2 separate regions of the Homo sapiens genome follow, and region 1 is linked to region 2. Evidence: fine-mapped expression QTL. A gene starts in region 2. The other region holds a variant in brackets. All regions are shown on one strand. Distances are between the middles of the regions.

What was found. PIP is the estimated chance that this variant, and not a neighbour inherited with it, causes the effect.
Region 1: its variant is fine-mapped to the expression of SERTAD4-AS1 in thyroid (GTEx, PIP above 0.99).

The regions. Positions count from the first base shown.
Region 1 is chr1:210,289,843-210,292,747 of GRCh38, forward strand. It overlaps LINC02602 (long intergenic non-protein coding RNA 2602), which reads right to left. Exons shown (of 2, transcript NR_183451.1): 2 at 496-680. Among named protein-coding and RNA genes, the nearest start is that of LINC02602, 1.9 kb to the right of the region's middle. The variant A/T (reference allele first, on the strand shown) is at 1,571.
Region 2 is chr1:210,232,547-210,235,451 of GRCh38, forward strand. It overlaps SERTAD4-AS1 (SERTAD4 antisense RNA 1), which reads right to left and starts at 1,339. Exons shown (of 2, transcript NR_024337.2): 1 at 1,089-1,339. It overlaps SERTAD4 (SERTA domain containing 4), which reads left to right and starts at 250. Exons shown (of 4, transcript NM_019605.5): 1 at 250-465. RefSeq lists an enhancer at 128-661.

The DNA of each region.
Region 1 (2,905 bases), 57 kb after region 2:
ATTCTGTATAGAATATATACCTATACACATACCCAGGGGAATGCTGTTTATTGTTTTACAATGTGGGATCATTTATACATCTTTTCTCTCCTCATCTCAACACCACCTCATAGAAACTCCTCCAAGCTATCTGGCATACTCTGATTTTCCATGTTCATTGGTTACATACTATGCCATGGTGTGGACGTGTAATAATGTGTTCAGCTTTTCCCTCTTGGGAGGCAACCCTCTGTTTCCTGGCTTTTGCTCCAACAAACTATGCCATAACACCCATCTTTGAAATGTACAGTTTCAGAGCAGGAGGTGAAGTTGGATGCTCTTTCATTCAATCCCACAGTTAAGATAAATAAGGATCAGAAAAGTAAAAGAACATGCCCAAGGTCACACAGCTATTTGCTTGGTGCTTTGTAAAAATTTGAATAGCTATTATTTCACATGCTCTTCACAAGCAGGGCAAGTATTATCAGGTCAACCTTAAAAGTGGAGAAACTGAAGTCAAAGAGACCAATTGCTTTGATTTTATTACCAGTGAGGGCTAAAGCTAGGGCTTAAAGCCAGGACTTCTGATTCCTGATCCCCAGTAGCTTCTTCCACTCCTGCGTTGATGGAAACCATTAACTCAAAACTTCTACAGGGCAGCCTTCTGTTAATATATTCTAGACATCAACTGTACACCAAGCCTGAAAAAAAAAAAAAGTTTCGTTAAGAGAATGACACAGTGTGGATTTACCCATAATTCATAGCATACTTTCCTTACCTATTAGAATAAATGATAGTTGAGGTTGTTAAAAGTCTTTAAAATTAAATAGATTAAATTGTGAGTGCTGGCTCTGCCAGTAACTCTGCAACCTTCAGCAGATTACCCAGCATCCCTAAAACCCAGTTTCCTCATCTATAACCAAGGATATAATTGCACGGCACCTGCCTTCTCAGGTATTGTTAAGATTAGATGCCACAGGTGTAAGAGCAGATAGGATAGTAGGATCTTGATAAAGATTAGCTATTATTTTGGATGCTGTAATTCTTAGGTCTCACCCAACTGAACCGGTAGATATCTTTGATATCTTTCCTTCTTCACTCTTGTCTAGGACAGGGAAAGCCTTTCTTATCTATGGGTCCAGGGCAGTTCGATATCCTTGCTGGTTACTTTGTTATTTCTTCGTAAGTGTAGGGTTACAGCGGGAAAGACCTTGAGAGTTGTCTCTTTTAGCATTGTACATTGGCTAAAGTGGAGGGGAATCTGTCCCCAAAAATGGCAGAGTGGGAATATTCTGACCCTTCTGAGCACGGCTGACAGTGTGAGCCATGGAGAATGATGACATTTTTCAGCAACAGAACTGTCAATGGATGTGTTACAGCTATTTTAGTGCCTTCTCCCCTCCTGGAGAAAAGCCATTTTCAAACCCGTTGCTTGCAATGCATTAAGTGATGAAATACAGATAACAAATTGCGCATTTGTTTGGCTTCATGCTTATTACACCCCCGGTTCTGGAAAGCATTGCACTTAGCCCCTTAATAATCCCTCTCCTGAGATCAATTACTAGGATTTATCTGGTTCCTCGAGCATAAA[A/T]GTGTTTTATTGTTTTTACTTTTGCTCCAAGTGAAGTGTGAGTGGGTAGGCCAGGTTAAAATGGACTGTCCCAGACAAGAATATGAAGCTGGGATCATTGGCCCTGCTTTTACTGTCTACCAGGTCCTCATGACCAGGAAAGGGGGGAATATTTGGAAGCCACTTCCCTGGGGAGGCACCAGGTCCAGATGTCCTCATCTCTGGCTATTTGCACGTATATAGAACACAGGTCTGCAGGTGCCTAGGAAGGTGGGTGCTGTTCCACGGGAGAAGCTGGAAAGCAGAACCAAGTTACCATCTCAGACCAAATCGTTTTTCCTCTAGAATTTCACTGTAATCCAAACCAGTTGAACATTTGAGAAGAACTGGGTACCATGAAAAGGGGTAATGGAATTAGCTTTCATGTTTTTCCAGGACTCTAAACCATATTTCCTGTCACAACTGTACATTATTAATACAAGGCATCTGTTAGCGCACAACTGCCTGAAAATGTGCACCCAAAAACCTTACATCTGGTTTCAATAATTTATTTCTGACATTTGTAGTTGGTGGTGGTGGGGAGTGGGGGGAGGATGGGAAAAAGGGGGGAATTAAAGCAAGATGTTGCCTTTAACCCATCAGAAGCTCCTGTTGGAGCCGAAAGCTGGAGTTCTTAACGTGGTTTCTGCATTAGGTAATATATTAATTTAGCAGCAAATAGCAAGACTCCGGGCCTGGTGGGTGTGGGTGCCCGCTCGCTTTTATCCTGCCTTCTCTGGCTGCAGCAATTAGCTTCCTCTTGCGAAGGGGATTAGGAGGACCACCCCCCAGCGGCGGGGGTTGGGGGGCTCTCGCAGAGCTGTCAGGTGTCATTCGGCTTACCCAGCCCCCCCACCACTCCCCGCCCCTGCAATTAACTCCCTCTCCCGCTTTGCCAGCCCCTCACCCGCACAGAGACAAAGAGGCCTGTTCCCGAGGTGTCCGACCTCCTGCCCCCTTGGCGGGCCCCGCCCGGGTTCCTCCAGCAGGAATCGCCCCAGGCGCTGGGAGCCAGAGCTGGCCGGGTCTGACACCCGCCCCAGACTTTCCACGATCAGGTTTCAGCTCGACTAACGAGGGGGAAAGAAAGAACGCGCGACTTCCGCGGGCCGGAGCCGCGCGGGGGCCCGGGGGAAACGCCGGCCTGGTCTGGGTGGGAGGGGACGCGAAGAGGCTCCGGGCTCGGCCAGTGTCTGCCCCGGGACTGGGCCCTGGGACTAGGCGGGGCACAGGTGTCCCAGGAGGGGGCGCCCTGACTTGACGCGAACGGGCCACCTGTCCCTCCCACGCCTGCGCTGCCACCCGCCCTGCTCCGCC
Region 2 (2,905 bases):
AGGGAGGGCGGGAAGCAGGGAAGGAGGCAGGGGGCGGGCTGGGGTGGGGGTGCGGGAAAGGCGCCCCGTGTGCAGCCTGAGGAGCGGCGGCGGCGGCCTGAGCAGAGGGAGGGAGGGAGAGCGGGCGCGCTTGTCATGTTCCCTCTCTCACCCTGGGGGCATCCTGCAGAACCTCTCCTCGGAAATCCACGGGGAAATGGCAAACAGGATTGACGGGTTTCACACGCTCCTCGCTAGACAGAGCCGCTCATTACCATAACCGTCTGCAGCGACGGCGGCGCAGCGCCCCAGTCGCGGCGGCGGGACCTGCCGGGACCCTTGCCCGCCGCGCACCCGCAGTCACCGCCGAGCGGGCGGCCGGGCCGGGACCCGCGAGTGTGCACCGGCGGCCGGGCTGGCGCCGAGCCCAGAGCGGACCAGCAGCAGCTCAAGCGCTGCGGCCGCCGCCTCCCCGCTGACCCCGCGGTAAGAGCCGGGCTGGGCGCGGGCCGCGGGGGCGGGAGGGCCGGGCAGGGTGGAGGGCGAGGGCCCCCCGGGGCTCCTGCCCTCGCAGACGGGCACCCACGCGGCCTCCCGCGCGCCCTCTTGGCACCAGGGCTGTGCCGAGGTCACCGAGTGGACTCGCAGCGGCCGGAGCGGAGTCGGGGCGGCGTGGGGGCCAAGGCACAGCTGGGCGCGGAGGCGGCGCGGGCTTTTCCCTGGGCTAGCGTGCGCCGCGGCGCCTTCACCAGGGCGGGAACCGCCGCCTCCTCTAGGGCTGCTCGGGCTGCCACCCGCGCGCACCGAGACAACTCCAGGGGCGGGTGGGGTCAGAAGCTCTGGTGAGACCTCATGGTCCTCCGTGGCCGCTTAGTCCCTCATCGTAGGGGAAGGGGTTAAGTAGGAGGGGTGCCCCCAGGTCCGGATGCCGCGGCGCTTGGCAGGTGGGGAGAGAGGGATTGTGGATGTCAGGAGCGCGCGTTTGCAAGAAAAAGGAATTGATGCAGTAGCTGACACCTTCTGTCCCCCGCCACCTCCGCCCCCGCACCCTCCTCCCAGGCAGCAGAGCTGCGCTGCGGGCGGCGGCGGCTCCTCTGTCCTCAGCTCACCTCCTCGGCGGGCTGAGGCTGCTGCCCGCCTGGTCCACGCCTCCGCCTCTCGCTTCCCTTCCTCCCCTCCCGCCTCTTCGGCCCTAGCAACTTTCCGAGTGCCCAGCTGTGGTCGCAGAAGCAGGGAATAGGCGTCCTCGCCGCCAGGTCCCACGGGCGCAGGGCGCTCCCGCAACCGCGGGCTTCCAGCGGGTTTGGCCGGCAAGGGAGGGAGGGAAGGCCGGGCCGACATCTGCTGCGGGCTGGAGCGCGGGGGCCCGGGCCAGCCCCGCCAGAGCCCTGCCAGCCGCTGTGAGTCATTTCCTTGGAATCCTACCTTTGGTGTTTATTTCCCTTAGAAGGAAACTTGGTTTTTTTTTTAAAAAAAAAAAAGGATAAGACATAAAGAATAATAATAGCTCTTATTCTTCAGAAGAGGCACACGGCTGCGGCACCGTAGAAAGACAACTTGCCTTTGTTCCCGGACACTTGGGGTGTTGTTTACTTTCTCCTGCGGCCAGCGGCCGACCGGGCGCTGCTGGCTACCCGGGGAGGGGCTGAGGGCTGCGGCACCGACACCCCGGGGGTGTGTCTGTGCGGGAGCCAGGATGTGGTTGGTGGCTGCCGCCCGCCTTCAAGAGGTCGGCCCTCCAAACCTCGGACCCCACCCCCGCAACCGCCACACACACACACACCTTGGGCACCAGGGCTCGGGCATCGGAGCACCCCTTCGTGCTCTTTAGGCCCAGCACCTGCAGCCCCAACCACAGGACCCAGCTTCAAGCTCTTGGCCTCGCGGGGCTGCAGCTGAGAAATGTACTTCCCAGGGCAGACAGGTGTACTGCAGGAACGGCAGAAAAGCGACATCTGTTTGTTTAGAAGGGTTGAAGAATTTTGTTCCGCCCATCCAGTCCCTTCCACTACCACCACCAGGAGCCGGACAAGCTATTGAGATCATTTTGGGACAATGTGGAGGTCAGGGGCTTGATGCCATTTAAAACTGGCAGCATCGATCGGGGGTGGAAATAGCCCTTTACTTCCCTGCTTTCCAGTGCTGGAATCAGACTGCTAACTGCTATAATGATCTTAATCAAATGCTCTCCAATTTTCAATGACAGATGGAAGAAGAAGTGAGCAAAGAATGACCTGGAGCCCCTTGTTAGATTCAAGGTGCCGCTGAATTCATAGCTACCCTGTTTTGTGTGCCAGCCACTCCTATTAGCATCATAATTGCTTCTAGGAAAGAACAAGCCCAACTCATCTGGAAAAAAACAAATTGTATAGAAATGCCTGGTAACTTTACTACGAACATTTGCTGGAAAAGCTTGGCATTCTAGCCCTCAGTCTTCTGGGGATGCTGGAAGTGTCATTCCACTACATCCACCTGGGTGTCAAAACAGACATTCAGGAGCCTGAGGATGAAGGGTTAGGGCTTTTTTTTTTCTTATCTTTTAAACCCATGCATAGACAAAACACACTCTAACACCCTCCTGTTGAATCCATCACCTCTGATCTTAGAAAATAAATTTTGCCATAATGTATATCCTTTTCTTTATTTAATATTAATAGAACACGAATTTGTGGACTTGAATTGCTGACGTCAGTAGCAGAATTATAAATCTTATCAGACAGAGAATTATGACAGTTTAGATCTCTACATATAATACGAAGAAAGATTCACGTTAAGCATTTGTGCTTAACGCTGCCCTGTCCAATTTTTCGTGAACATTCAACTTGCCTTCTTAATTTGTTAACATCCAGTGTAAGTTTTAAATAGACTAGGAAGACTCAATTGCAAAATCTCCTCCCCGCTCCCAAATAATCCCAACTCATTCATG